Linked DNA regions of Homo sapiens. Each later gene encodes a partner of the first gene's protein in a complex. Each region holds a gene or a part of one and is shown on either strand. Other genes may lie near its edges. A codon is read from its position in the direction of its gene.

Region 1 (7,375 bases):
GACTGCACACTAGATAGTAATTCTTCAGGTCTTTTACATAACCACCAAGAAACAGATATTGGTTTCTGCAATATAGTATAAAAGTCCACAATCAATCCAGTCTTAGCCAGTATCTTCAATTTACTTCTGTTGCTGTACAAATAATTGGCCATTACTAGGGCTTACAAGTTAATAACAGGACAAAAAATATACATTGCACTGACACAAAAAGTCAGCTGTGTTAAGAGTCATGCAACAAGTAACCAAACTTGCTGAAATTAAAAATACTTTCTAAAAACAGTTTTAACGGCATAAATATTTTATACACAGTTCATTTACCAAAACAAAATGTATTTAAATGATACAAAGCAAAAATAAGTTTCTACCAACTTTATACATAAGAAAGTGCAAAATAACTTATCTAGAGTGTTTTGCTATTATCCAGACGGATGGCTGCTATGGGCAGCTATTCTCTTCTTCAAAAGCATGACATTAGAGTTGCACACTACATAGAAATGTTAGAATACATGGATGAACAAATGAACAGGTGGATGGATGAATGAACAAACTACAAAGATCAGGCAGGAGCCCTATGAGGTACTCTCAGAAAAAGAATGCAGACCATACTAAGGTAGATGTACATGTTGACAATAGATGTTGGTAAATAAATTTACATGGAACACAGAAAGATATCCAGAGAAATAATTAGTTTATGTATGTGAGTGTACTTGTATGTGTGAGTGATTCTGTTGATTTCTGCATTAGAGGCAAAAAGAAAAGAAACCCGATTGAACAAAACAGTTGCCCACAGCACCAGCTGCCAGAGGAAATACTACCATGAGGGTTTTGGTTTCCACCTTCTAGTTATGGAAGTTCTGTTAGAAAGTTAGTAATGGAAGTTGTGTCGGAAAGTTTAAAAGTGTTCATCCCATATAGTTTCCTATTACAAAGAGGAATAACCTTTAAGTAACTACACACACACATTCATATATTCAAGTCTTTAAAGAACACCTCTGCCACTGGGTATGGGGTAAACATGATTCATGGACAAAAGGAGGACGCTTCTTTTAAAAAGTGTAGAATAACACTGCTACAAATCATCTAGAGGGCCAGACAGGGGCAAGGCCCACAGTTACATAATAGCACAATTTCTGCAACTGTTGAACATCAGCATTATTTATTAGAATTGAAGATGGTGATGGGGGAGGGAGAGTGTGGGGGGAGTAAGACACAGAAAGGAAAACAGAACACAACTTTTCTTTAAATTAAAGTATTAATGCCGATAATCCTTTTATTAACAAGTATATTTGAACTTTTAGAAATGGAAGTGTTTTAATCAATTTTGATATGTAATCATAAATAGACTGTAGGCTCAAACCCAGGTAAATAAAGATTTAAATTTAGTAAGCGTAAGGCACTAAAGCAGCCTTTCTATTTTCTCTTGGAGACCTAGTTATCATATCAGGAAGAACAAATTTGTTCTTAAGCTGGTTTCAGCCCATCAGGTACAAGATCACCATTGTACCAAATGCCTATTTTTGAATGCATGTGCATATATGTGCATTTTAGTGCATAAGTGTGCCTCTCACCAGGGCCTAAAGATGGAAAATTGGAAAAGCCAAAGCCGCTGTCCTTTGCATGATGCCTCTGTGAGGGTGTGAAGGCCTTTCCTTTCGCACCTGTGAAGGTGTGAAGGCCTATCTTGGGCCATTAATGATTCTATATTTTTCAAATCACAGGGCTTTTAGAATTGTTCATAATGTTATCACTAAGTTTCTGAAAATGTTAAAATCTAGATTAATTGTTTCATTTTTAATATATATTATATATATATATATATGTACATAACACACATTTAAAAAAATCCCACCACCAAGCCTTTTCTCTGTAAACTAATCTCTTAGCCCCTTCCAGCTTTAATCCCCCTGGATTTGTGTGTTCTGTATCCAACTAGTAGAACAAATTAAATAACTAAATATTAAAATACTGTAATTATATTCATAGCAAAAACAAAAAAATAGACATTGATACAGTATAAATCTCACTGTTTTCAGGTAGATGACATTAAATGGTAAAGGTTAATTTTAAGCAGTTCTGACATGATTCAGTTTTACAACAAAGTTTATATGTTAATTCTGTACACTTCTTTCTTTCCTTTTTTTACCCCTTGTTTGAAAATAAGCTATAGTAGAACATTAGTGTCACCAAAGACACATACTTATTATGTTCTATGCAAGATAAGCTAATTTTGGGTTACATGCAAATATATTTCCATTAGTTGAGACAGGGCTGTTTCCTGCACTACACTGGTCATCTGACCACCTTTCTGCAATGCTAAGAAGGTATTCTTTGACCAAACAGCAGTCCACATACAAGTTTAAAAGGGGCCCTGTTTATGTAGGAACAACACTGAGGTGGTGCGTAGCCAGGTACAAGACGCCCAAATATTTCCAGTTTATCTTACGGCTGGACTCCTATTCTCCCACACTGTTTCCTAAAGAAGGTCCACATTATTTTGGTTACTAGCCTAGTTTAAGTGGAGATACTGTGGGCAACTTGAAAGAAATGACATCAGGCACACAGGCTGAGCTTGAAAGGAAAAAAAGACCACAGATAATGTCTTTGGGGATTTAAAAAAACATATTTATAATTAATTGGTAAGTGAGGGATGTCAGACAAACCATAAGTAGTTCATTGAGTTAGTGGTTTAGTTTGAAGTTTCATGTTACAGGCAGTTAAGTCCTTATTTAGAAAAAAGGCCTTTTATATCTATTTACAATATACATAGTTACTTGCAAAGAAGTCAGATTTACAACCATTTTCTAAAAGCCTTTTTTGTTGTTGGTTTTTCCAAATAAGGATGAGTAGCTCTATAAAAATGAGATGCAAGAAAAGAGAGTTAATAAGTGAGGATTTTTCTCTTGGAGACAGCTACTGTCATCAGGGAGAACTGGAGGTCGAAAGTGTTGCTCCTAGGAACCACCTCATATTCTTCTTGTGCTGTTCACCTGAATCGCGTCTGCCCCATTCCTGTACTCTACACCCGTTTTATTCAATGATCCCTTTGAATTTTAACACTTCAAACACGTGGTATGAAGAGATGTGTAAACGGAGACTGTTTTCAATGCCTTCCAAGCTGGGACAGGAGAATCGGGAAGGGGTCTACAGACCATGGTCTCCACTCAGCTTGTTGAATCTTCAACAATTTCGAGGCCCATCTTCTGAACCTCTCTCATGCTGTAAGTTATAATAACAGTTCTGACAAACACGCACCGGGGATGAGATTTTCAAGCGTTTGATTTCAGATTGAAAGCGACTGCACCTAAAGGAAAGGAAAAGTCAATTAATTATAGGTCTTCTCCATGCTTGATCATGGGCACCGGAAACATTAATAATCGAATGGAAAGCTTGCAGTAAAATGCCAAAGGCCATACTGGTTTGTGTTGTGTGGCTGAACAAGGACTAAAAGGAAAGCTGTATTATTTGTTTCAGTCTATGAAGAAAAGCAGTATTAAACCAGGGAAGCTATTTCTTTGACTGACAAGAATTAAAAAAACGAAAACAAAAAAACAGAGTTAAGATTTTCCTATACAATGAGGCCAAGGTGTCTGAACAGTGATGTAAGGCCATTCTACCTGTGTAGACTAATTCTCATGGCCTATAAGCTTGGGAGGTATGTCAATGTCTTTACCTGGAGCTTGACATATTTCTCTTGGAAATCAGAAAAACTCACTAGCGGAAATTAGAAGACTCACTAATGAGTATCTATTTTCAAGAGAATTACTAATGACTCATTAGTGAGTCTTCTAATTTCCAAAAGAAATATGAGTTTGATCACTATCAAGTTCCATTGTGCTTTTAAACATTTTGATTGATCCACTCTTTAATCATTTCTTAAACAGTTAGACTGGCTTTCCTTTTCCAGTCCCAACACCCTCATTTCCTATTTATCTTGCTAGAACTGTTTGAAGGAGACTATTCTTAAGAGATGTTCAAATTCTTTAAGAAGTATTCAGAGTTCCTATTCCTGGAATAAAGCCAGGTGTGACTCAGGATGTGGTATTAAATCACTTTAGGCTTGGATTTTCAGAAGATTGAAATGGAAATGAAAAAAAAAATTTTTTTTTGGTAGGGATGGGGTCTCATTACATTGTCCAGGCTGTCCTCAAACTCCTGGCCTCAAGTGATCTTCCTGCCTTGACCTCCCAAAGTGCTGAGACTACAGACGTGAGCCACTGTGCCTGGCCTTGAAATGGAGATTTATGTTTAGTCCATTAATCTACCAGTAAAAATGTCCAGAGAGTAAATTAAGTACTATAACCTTATGGGTTTAAAGGACTGTCACTGGACCTCTCAGATCCCTCAAGAGTGTCAACAGCTCTCAGCCATAGAGACCACAGGCTGTGTGTTCTGGAAAGCACTTCCTTCTGTGCCTGCTTCATCAGAACTTATCACTGTTTGGTCAGTTTCCAATAAAGCTTCCATCCAACATTTAATAGCAATGGATAATTTAAAGAATTACCTATATTTAAACAATATTTTGAAAATTAAACACTACAAAGAACAGATGTGTGCCAGCATACATACGGGAGTGCTAGTACAAATCACTAGATTAATATGATGGGTGTGGAGGCTGAAAACTGTAATCCCAGCACTTTAGGAGGCTGAGGCGGGGGTACTGCTTGAGCCCGCGGCTGTGAGACCAGCCTGGGGAACATAGTGAGACTCTATCTCTACAAAAAATACAAAAATTAGCCAGGTGTGGTGGCTCTTGCCTATAGTCTCAGCTACTTGGAAGGCTGAGGTGGGAGGACTGCTTGAGCCTGGGAGATCAAAGCTGCACTGAGCTGTGATCGTGCCACTGTACTCCAGCCTGGGTGATAGAGGAAGACCCCATCTCAAGAAATATATATATATAGGCTGGGTGCGGAGGCTCATGACTGTAATCCCAGCACTTTGGGAGGCCAAGGTGGGCAGACCACAAGGTCAGGAGTTCGAGACGAGCCTGGCCAATATGGTGAAACCCCGTCTCTACTAAGAATACAAAAATTAGCCAGGCGTGGTGGTGCACGCCTGTAGTCCCAGCTACTCAGGAAGCTGAGGTAGAAGAATCGCTTGAACCCAGGAGGCGGAGGCTGCAGTGAGCCGAGATCACGCCACTGCACTCCAGCCTGGGTGACAGAGTGAGACTCCGTCTCAAAAAAAATAAAAATAAAAATAAAAGATATATATATATATGTCTAGCGGCTCTGTGCTTTGAAAGGCCTGCTCTATAAAACCCATTATGGGTTTTTAAATTTATTATCTATTTTTTTGAGATGGAGTCTTGCTCTGTTGCTCAGGCTGGATGGAGTGCAGTGGCGTGATCTCGGGTCACTGCAACCTCTGTCTGCTGGGTTCAAGTGATTCTCTCGCCTCAACCTCCTGAGTAGCTCACCACCACACCTGGCTAATTTTTGTATTTTTAGTACAGACAGGGTTTTGCCATGTTGGCCAGGCTGGTCTCGAACTCCTGACCTCAGGTGATCAGCCCACCTCAGCCTCCCAAAGTGCTGGCATTACAGGCATGAGCCACTGTGCCCGGTCCCATTATAGGTTTTATAGAGCAGGCCTTTCAAAGCACAGAGCCACTAGACAGAATCCTCTGCCAGCCTCACAGAAATTCCCACAGGAAATGGCTGGCTGCAACATTTTGGGTCCCTCATCTTGAACCAGACTGCCCAGCAGAAAAGGTTTAAGGAATCAAATGATGGAACACCTGTTTTGCCAGACTCTGAACTTGGTGCTTTACAACACTCATATATGTGATCTCATTTAATTCTCTCAATAGCTCTAAGAGGACTGGTCTTCTTACCCACATTTACAGATAAAGAAACCAAAGCTCAGAGAGGCTCGGTAACTTGCTGGCATTATGGCAACAGAAAGTAGCACAGTGAGCATTTGGTCAGTGTAAACCCAAAGACTATGCCCATACCAGTAAGCCAATGCTGCCTATAAAACCTCAGGAATGGACTCATAATTACACAAGTTGAGAATAATATGCTTTCTATGAAAGCATCTCTGGAGTAAGGCAATATAAGCCTTAAAGTGTACTGTCCATGGAATCCTTTCTGTTGTCTGGCAGAAAAAGTAACGACTGTGGATGTGTATCTGGGACCCAGGTGTAGGACAGAGATATCAACCAAATCTATAGCCATGGGACCACTGACCTTTCATATGGGGGAAAAATAGATCCTCGCCTCATGTTATACCCCAAAATAAATTACAAATGAATTAAAGACCTAAATGTGAAAAATAAAACTTTGAAACCTTTAAAAGAAAATAAACAAGATTATCTTTGTGATCCTAGGACAGAGAAAGAATTCTTAAGGCACAAAAAAGCAAAAATCATAGAGTAATACATGTGACTACAACCAGTTTAAAAACTTGTAGATGACAGAAAAAACATATACAAAGTTGAAACACAAGCCACAGACTGGCAGAACGTATCTGCAAGATATATAAAAAACAAAGGTGTACAGCACAGAATATATAAAAGAACTCCTCAAGGAAAAAAAAAGGGCAAAGTACCCAAAAGGAAACCCAAATAGCCAACAAACATGAAAAGATGTTGTCTCACTAGCATTGCAAGTTAAAACAACAAAGCACTATTTTTTAGCTATCAGATTGGCAAAAGTGGAAAAAGTCTGGCAGTACCAAGCATGACTAAGAATTTGGAGAACCTTCATGGCCTGTTGGAGGTAGTGGAGGTAGTATTAACTAGCACTACTGTTTTGAAGAGTAATTTGGCAATATCTAATTAAGATCAAGAATAAGTCTGTGTTCTATCAATTTCATTCCATCTCTAGAGGAATTCTAGCTTGTGTATTAGAAGGGCATTTATAGGGATGTGCATTGTAGCATTATTTATAGTACTGATAAAAATAGAAAAAAAAAAACCCTGAGAGGGCATCAAAAGGGAAATAATGATGATAAATTCATATAATTAAAATAACCGACAGTAGTTAAAATGAATATATTACAATAAGATATCTATATAAATGGATTTCAAAAACAATGTTGAGTAAGAAAGTTACAGAAGGGCAAAAACAGTATAGTACGTAAAGCTGAAAAGTAAAGCTGAGAACACCAAAATAGTATGATGTAATGTTTACAGAGGCAACACATGTTCCTGAAAGCATAAAAACATGGAGAATGGGTGTGATTGGTGAAAGGTGCAAAGAGGATACTTACAATGTATCTATAGTGTTTATAGAATCATTTCACATACAGGTCTCTAAATTAAATACGATGAAATATTAGCATATGTGCATTCTGTGTCATGGATGACAAGGTGTTTGTGACTTGTATGACAGAAAAATTTCCTAATTGTAGTAATAAAGAAGAACAGAAAAAG
Region 2 (7,691 bases), on another chromosome or scaffold:
CACCTCCCTCTACCACTGCCTCCCGCACTCCCGGACCGGGCCCCCTCCCCCCGCGCCGCCGGCCGCCTGCTCCCTCCTCCTCCTCCTCCACCTCCTCTCTCCTCCCTCCCTCCTCTTCTCTCCCTCCTCCCCCCGCCGGCGCCGAGGCGCAGTGCACCAAGGGTTTTGTAGTCCGTCCGGGAACAGCGGAAAAGGGACCGCATGAACCTCCGGAACTTTGATTCCCAGAAAGCCACAGGCTGGCGCAGGCGCACCAAGCCGCTCCCCTCCCCCGGGGAGCGGCGGGGAGACCAGGAGCCGGAGGGGAGAGCGGAAGTGCGCGCGCAGGCCCCTGGGAGATGTAGGCTGGGCGGGACCAAGAAAGAAGAGGAAGAAGGGATTAGAACTCTCGGCCACCATACTGCCTCGTTCTGCAGCTTCTTTCTCCCCAGGAGGACCGCCCCACTTCCGGCCTGCCGGAGAAATGATTGCTGGGAGTTGAAGTATTCCTGGCGATAATGGCTCCCGCTCCCAGTCTTCTCCCTCCCTGATTCCACTCTGCCGGATCCCACACACCGGCAAAAGTCTAGCCAAGTGACATGCAACTGAGAACAGCCGTTTTACTAGCTTGCACACATGAAAATATCTTAGTTAGAATGTTCTAGCAAATGTGGATGTTCACCTAAAGCAGGTACTTCGGAACTTTCTCCACAGGAACCCACAGTAAAAAAAAATTTTTTTTTACATGAGCATTTTTAACATTTAGTTTCACATGCGTGTTATAAAACTAAAGTTTCAAGAAATAATCCTCAGTATTCCATTCCATCACAACAAAAGCACCCTCTTTTTGCAGACAGGGAAAAGCCCAACATGAACAGAATAAACCAAAATATACTTCTATCCCTCCAGCTTGTACCCAGTACTCTTCTTTCCCCACCACTGAAACCCACTGACACCTTGGAAAGACTTAAAATCAGCGGGACGAGGGGAGCAACACAAGGCAAAATTCAGTTCAGCTTGGTGGTTTCCTCTTTATTGATGTGCCTCCTACCTTCCCCCCACAATTTCAGTCCCTTCCAACTACCCCCAAAAAAGAAGGTAGTGAAAGGAAGGGATTGCTGGGGTTCTGAGCCCCTTGGGCAGTCAGAAAGGGAACAGAAACCAAAACAATCACTGGATGTGACACAGACTGACAATCAAGAAGTCTACAGCAGGATGGGAAAGGCGGGCAGAGAAAGGGGAAGAAAGGAGAAAGGAGAGTTACAAGATGCCAACTCCACCATTACCCCTCCTAAGAGAGGCTGGAGAGAAAGCCACAAACATTAAGAAGTGCCGGTCCTGAATAAGGGAGGTGGTGTTTGAGCTTGAAGGAGGAGGAGGTCAAGAAAGGGGGGCCACCTCTCTCTTTGTAGAATGAGACCCCCCTCCAGCTCAGGGGCAGCAGCTTCACAGACCGTAGACACTTTCGTCACTGTAGGCAATGTAGAGAAAGAAGTCTTCTTCATGGTGTTCCTGGGATGAAAGCAGAAAACTGTTCAGCAACTGGGCTCCAGTAACTTAAACCAACCACGACCCAGACACGTTCTTCTAGAACCACAAACCATTGCCTGACTCCTTCACTGACTCCAAGGCCTACCACACGAGCAGTATAATCTCTGCAGTCCTGGGCAAAAAGGCCTCAAACTGTTTTCTGCTGCTTTGGAATGGGGAGGGGGACTGGGAAGAGTCCCGAACAGATAGTTTCTCTAGCTCACTGTTCTCTTTCCTTCTCTCTACTCCTACTGTTCTGTCCAAACCCCCAACCCACGGCTATTATGAAACTTTAAGGCAAGCCAGGAAGCTAGTCCAAAACTACTGATGTAACAACACTTTCTTCCCCTCACGCTCTTCCAAGATTCCTCTCCAAAGCCTCCACCACTTCCCAGTCACCATACCTGGTACAGCTGACCCATTGTGGCACTGGTGGGTGGAATGACATTGTTGACAAAGAAAAACAAGGCATCCTCAGCTCGGAGATGAATTCGCTTCCGGATCAAGAAGTAGAACTGACCAACTGCAAAAGATACAAGATGCAAGAAAGTCACAGAGGTCAAAAATGCCCTCAAAAGAACAGCTGCTAGGTGGAGCCTCCTCCCGCAGAGACTGCACTCCCACCCACAGGAAGCAAGCCTGAGTCTTGGATCAGGTTCCCACCTGTGAGATCAGAAGGCACCAGGTATTTCTTTTTGTCCAGGTCTCCTATCCGAGCTTTGGGAGCCTTTTCTACTATCACCTGATAAAGAGATGAAAATTAGGAGACAGAAGGAATGCAGCCCCGAAGCTGCACCTGTCAAGAACTCAAGAAACAATATTCCTAGCACCTAAATCTACCCCAGATTCATCTCTTTGTCTTTGTACACGCGGTGCAGCACTGAGTCCCAGAGATCCTGACCTCACTGACTGGAGCTCATTTAAATATCCAGGATCCATCCCCCAATAGGGCGTCACCATAAACAACTATCTTAATCAGACGGAGGTGACTTGTTTGGGTCGACTAGTGATTCAATCTCGCAACCTTAGCTAGCTGGGGGGATGACCATTTGAAGCTCAGGCTGTCAAACTCTCTAAGGCCTCAAATGCTAAGGTTTCTCTCTCCTGTCCACATCCCTCTCAACCCCACATCCACCACTACCCCACTCCTTTCATCCTGGGTCCCAAGGACAGCAGTTTCAGGCTCGCTGCCAACCCCACCACAGCCAGCAGCCTGATCCCTGCGCTGCCTGTCCCGATCCAAGGCCAGGCTGTGGCGTCAGCGTAAGCGTCCCGCGCCCTCGGCCCTGGCTACTGTCCTCACCGGCACCCGGTCCGGGTATTTCTTTCGGATCTTCTCGCCCTCAGAGCGGCGCTTCTCGAACGGATGCTCTTCTTTGTACACGAACTTCATCCTCCCGGGAACCGGGCTGGACAGGGCTGGGCTGAGGGAACCCAGGGGGGCCGGGACGGGGGGCGGCGACGACGGCGGCGACGCGCGGGCGGATTCAGCGGAGCGATCCACGAATTTGCGCCACTTCCCTATTCACCAACCCCGCCCCCGACTATCGGGGACTGCCCCCCCCGCTAAGATACGCCACTACCTCAGCGGCGCTAACGCTGCTAGCGTAGCACCACCAACTGACCGGCCCCCTCACGCCATTAGCGTAATCGCTTTGGAATCAATTTGTGGGCTACGCAGGCGACGTAGCAAAGACGGTTGGCTTTTGCTCATCGAAAATTACTCTAAACCTATTCCCCAACCGTCCCCTCAAGGAAGCTGGGGCTGAAGAGGAGTAAAAGATGGTAATCATCATACGAGACTTGGTTCTCCAAGTTCCTTTCGTTAACAACGTAGAGGAACAGCAGGGACAATTACAAGGTTAGCTATTCACGAACCGTGTTGCTACGCTGAAGGCGGCCGTTGACACCAAAACAAAGTAGTACCCAAGTGGCGGAGATGATCTCCAGAAATAAGAAGTCAAAAAGAAAACAGATGTTTGGAGAGATCTACAGAACGCTTAAGTGCCAAAATGAGTAGACCAATAGGGACTGGAGAGGAGGTTGGAAAGGTAGGGACTACGCCAGCGCGGAGGAACACTGCGGGACTTGAGTTAAATCATGTGATCTCAAAGAGGGCGGAGCGTCACGTGGCGGGTGCGCGAAGTAGGGCCGGCTTGGGAGGGCGCCGGGGAGGCGGGGCCGGCTGGGCGACAGCTGGGAGGGGGACCGACGCCTTCCCGGACAGCGGAGGTCGGGGCGCCAGCCACCTGGGGGCAGCGCCCGCTTAACCTGTCCACGTCAGTGCCCCGGACGAAGCCCGGTTTCTCCAGCTCTACGCCCTTTGGCCGTCCAGGTTTCTCCTTTCGTGCTTCCATAGCCGGTTTCTCCTTTCGTGCTTCCATAGCCTGCTTCTCCGAAGGTGTCCTTCCACTCCCCACCAGCGCGCCCATCCTGTCACTCGGCCCTTCCCGCCAAAGCATCTGGTGTCAGCATTATTGTATCCCAGGCATCTGGTGTCCGCATTATTCTATCCCTATACTCAACGCCACCTTTCCCCCTGCCCCTTGAGTCCAACAGCAGTCTCTTCCCCCTCTGCCTGTGGGACAGGGTGCATGTGAACAAAGTCCCCTCTCTTCACTTCCCAAAACCCCAGAGAAGGACCTAAGGCCGCTTTGGTTTCAAAGTTATAATGCATGGTTTAAAAGAGAGAAAAGGAAAAAAGACACAAAGCTGGTTACAGGTCTGAGGGAGTCTAAGGAGAGAAAAATAGAGGGAGAGTAAAGGGGGGACAAATTTAGGGAAAATCCAGTGGCCCAAAATCCCAGTATCCCACCCACAGCCCAGCCCTTGGAGCAGGAGTGAAGAATTAGATCAGTTTTGTACAAGAGTTTTTTAAAAAAAATCAAATCACAACAAAGCTGACTTGGCTTCTCTTTGAGCCTCCTGGATCACCGTATGTCTGTCACTCTGGCCAGTCCTGCCTCTTCACAAACACTGATTCGGCTCTCCTAGGCTTCCGCCTGTGTCCCAGTCTGGGGTTTCCATGGAGTGTGAACACGAAGTTAAGAGTGAGGCTGCTTCAGAGCCCCTGGCCCATGTGTCCATCCAGACTCCAAGTGGAGTGTAGGGCTCCCAGGGCAGAGAGGGGTGGGAGGGGCAGACCCTGCCCAGGCAGTCCTCACATTGGACAGGGCATCAGACGGCATCCCAAGGGCTCGCCCTCCCTTTCCCCCCCACCCCAACTCAGGTGGAGGGGGAGCAGCTGTCACCAGAGCCGATGTTGGTGAAGGTTTCGGCTCAGCACGGAACGAACATCAGCGGTGAACCTGGGGTGACAATAACTTGCATTGGTAGAGTACCTTATAGTTCATACCCTCACAACACTCTTGTAAGGCAGCATCACTGGAGATGTGGGACCTAAATTATCACCATATTCATGATTAGATAGGTTCAATTTGCCCACAGCCTACTAGCTAAAGTGATGAGCTTTGAAGTAAGACGACCTGGGTCCAAATGTTAAATTCTTAAGGGAACAGAGTTAAAACAGGACAAACCTTTTTTATTCCCTCTGAGGATCCCCCACCTCCTCCTTTCTTGAGATATCCAAGTGTCCAGAGCCCACTTCCCTTACCTGAGGGCATCCAGCATTGGGAGCAGGTTGAGAAGGGCTGTGTCGCTGGGGTCACTGAACCAGGATTTGATGGGGATGGCATTGTCTAGGGTGGGTGAAAATGCAGATGAGAAGAAACAGAATTCAAGAGAGACGGTGTTTTTCTCTTCTTGGAGGGAAGGAGGAATTATTGTTAAAAATATATGCCTCCCACTACCGGAAGTCAACAACCTAAGTAAAACTTTCCTGGTTTATGCTCCGAAACTAAGTTTTAATCACCAGATCTCATACCTATTGATGCTTCTAGTCAAGCTTACTGCCATTGTGCCTCACTTGAAACACACTTGGCCAGGCGCAGTGGCTCACACCTGTTATCCCAACACTTTGAGAGGCCGAGGTGGGAGGATCACTTGAGCTCAGGAGTTTGAGTCCAGCCTGGGCAACATAATGAGATCCCTTCTCTACTAAAAATCAAAAAATTGGCCAAGGGCAGTGGCTTACGCCTGTAATCCCAGCACTTTGGGAGGCCAAAGCGGACGAATCACGAGGTCAGGAATTCAAGACCAGCCTGGCCAACGTGGTGAAACTCCGTCGCTACTAAAAATACAAAAAATTAGCTGCGCGTGGTGGCAGGTGCCTGTGATCCCAGCTACTTGGGAGGCTGAGGCAGGAGAATTGCTTGAACCTGGAAGTCGGAGGTTGCAGTAAGCCGAGATCACGCCACTGCATTCCAGCCTGGGTGACAGTGCGAGACTCTGTCTCAAAAAAAAATAAAAAATAAAAAAATTAGCTGGGCATGGTGGTGCACGCCTGTAGTCCCAACTACTGAGAGGCTGAGGCAGAAGGATCACTTGAGCCTGGGAGATCGAGGCTGCAGTGAGCTATGATCATGACACTGCACTCCAGCCTGGGAACAGAGTGAGACCCTATCTCAAAAAATAAATAAAAATAAATTTTATTTTTATTTATTTATTATTTATTTTTTTTGAGACGGCGTCTCGCTCTGTCACCCAGGCTGGAGTGCAATGGTGCAATCTCGGCTCACTGCAACCTCCGCCTCCCGGGTTCAAGCGATTCTCCTGCCTCAGCCTCCCGAGTTGCTGGGATTACAGGCGTGCGCCACCACGCCTGGCTAGTTTTTTCTATTTTTAGTAGAGATGGGGTTTCACCATGTTTGTTAGGCTGGTCTCGAACTTCTGACCTCGTGATCCGCCTGCCTCGGCCTCCCAAAGTGCTGGGATTACAAGCATAATCCACCGTGCCCAGCCAAAAATAAATTTTAAAAATGAAAAAAATGATATAAGAAATCCGACTTATGAAATGGACATATATGGTATCTCATTTGAAACACAAAAATAACTTGCATTTCGACTTACAGCAAACTAGGGATAATCTAGGGAATCCCAGCTCTCAAGGACCAAAGCCCAGGTCTCCTGCAAAAATACCTTCTCAGAACCATGTTCTGGTCCTGCCAGACTCACCACCTTCCCCCGTACCTGGATGGCTCCTGTAAGCCCCTGGGGAGTTATCCAGGATCACAATGCTGGAGAGGTCACTGTGGACCACAGAGAGGTCCTTGATGTAGCTGCCCAACTCCAAAGTGCAGTGCTGGAAGGCAGGGGATCATGTAGCAGGCCTCTCTCCAGGATACTCTCCTCAAACCCAGATCCCTCCCTGGTGGCCTCCCTCCCAAGCCACACTCTTAGACTGGGATTCTAGCTTACCTGTCTGTAATATCTCCTCTTAAGAATGCTTCTGCTATTGTCCAGTTTATCTGCCACAGCAGAGCCATAGATCTCCATGCTTGCTGTAAACACCACCAGCTCGTACCACTGGCTCACCTGAAATAGATTGGGGGAGAGGGCGATGCCATACAAGGTGATGATTCCTTTAGACATACAGTTATCTTTCAGAAAGGCAATGGCATAGTCCTTCAGGCCTTCCATCAACATCAAATGTCTCTGAGGACACGAAATTCTGAACCCCCAGCCCAAACCTCCAAACTCAGTGTTAGGCATCCTACACTCTTATGATTCAGAAATGCAAGAACAAAAGAGAAAGATGCCAGCGGAAAAGAATTACATCAGCACAACAAATGAACCCCAAGTACTGAAAGCCACTCCCCTACCATTACACAGCCTCCCCTCTAGAAAACTGCTCTAACCCGTTTCTCCTCACCCCTTCCTCCAAATCCTCCCAATTCCCAGAGCCCTAAAACCATTCCTTCATTACAGAGCTCCCTTTAGCTCTCCAAAACTCACCACTTCCAGGAAGAAATCCACATGGGGCCTCTTATGTACAAAAAACCGGACAGGATGTTTGTCTATTACCACCTACAGAGGAACAAGATGGGCTGGGGGATGTCATGACCACCACAACCCAGGCCTAGAAAACGCCCCACCCATCTGCTTCCCTCCTCCAGGCTGACACTGGTGCCAGCGGATGGAGACAGATGCTCTGGGACTGGGAAAGGGAGTCCAGGTTTGGGCAGAGGAACAGATGGAACCATTTCATCACTCCCCACCACCACACACCTTGAGGATGAAGTCAGGAGGCGTACCAGGCCGGACTGTGGGCCTCAGGACCCCAT

Evidence for each region.
Region 2: the proteins of WDFY3 (region 1) and GABARAP are in contact, whole or in part, in a crystal structure (PDB 3WIM), measured with the Homo sapiens proteins. Residues at the interface, in NP_055806.2 of Homo sapiens: Glu3342, Lys3343, Asp3344, Gly3345, Phe3346, Ile3347, Phe3348, Val3349, Asn3350, Tyr3351, Ser3352; in NP_009209.1 of Homo sapiens: Glu17 (codon at 2,854), Ile21 (codon at 2,842), Lys24 (codon at 2,833), Tyr25 (codon at 2,830), Arg28 (codon at 2,821), Pro30 (codon at 2,815), Lys46 (codon at 2,206), Lys48 (codon at 2,200), Tyr49 (codon at 2,197), Leu50 (codon at 2,194), Val51 (codon at 2,191), Pro52 (codon at 2,188), Asp54 (codon at 2,182), Leu55 (codon at 2,179), Leu63 (codon at 2,015), Lys66 (codon at 2,006), Arg67 (codon at 2,003), Phe104 (codon at 1,470).

Annotation. Positions count from the first base shown.
Region 1 is NC_000004.12:84,669,691-84,677,065, forward strand, and holds part of WDFY3 (WD repeat and FYVE domain-containing protein 3), read right to left. Parts: intron 3,302-7,375; coding exon 3,178-3,301; 3' UTR 1-3,177. UniProt on the Homo sapiens protein: Required for selective macroautophagy (aggrephagy). Acts as an adapter protein by linking specific proteins destined for degradation to the core autophagic machinery members, such as the ATG5-ATG12-ATG16L E3-like ligase, SQSTM1 and LC3.
Region 2 is NC_000017.11:7,239,429-7,247,119, forward strand, and holds GABARAP (gamma-aminobutyric acid receptor-associated protein), read right to left. Parts: upstream 3,022-7,691; 5' UTR 2,903-3,021; coding exon 2,813-2,902; intron 2,252-2,812; coding exon 2,173-2,251; intron 2,033-2,172; coding exon 1,914-2,032; intron 1,492-1,913; coding exon 1,426-1,491; 3' UTR 580-1,425; downstream 1-579. Other genes in the region: PHF23 (PHD finger protein 23), read right to left, coding at 158-203; CTDNEP1 (CTD nuclear envelope phosphatase 1), read right to left, coding at 4,757-4,817, 5,123-5,207, 6,598-6,709, 6,826-6,942, 7,363-7,434, 7,636-7,691. UniProt on the Homo sapiens protein: Ubiquitin-like modifier that plays a role in intracellular transport of GABA(A) receptors and its interaction with the cytoskeleton.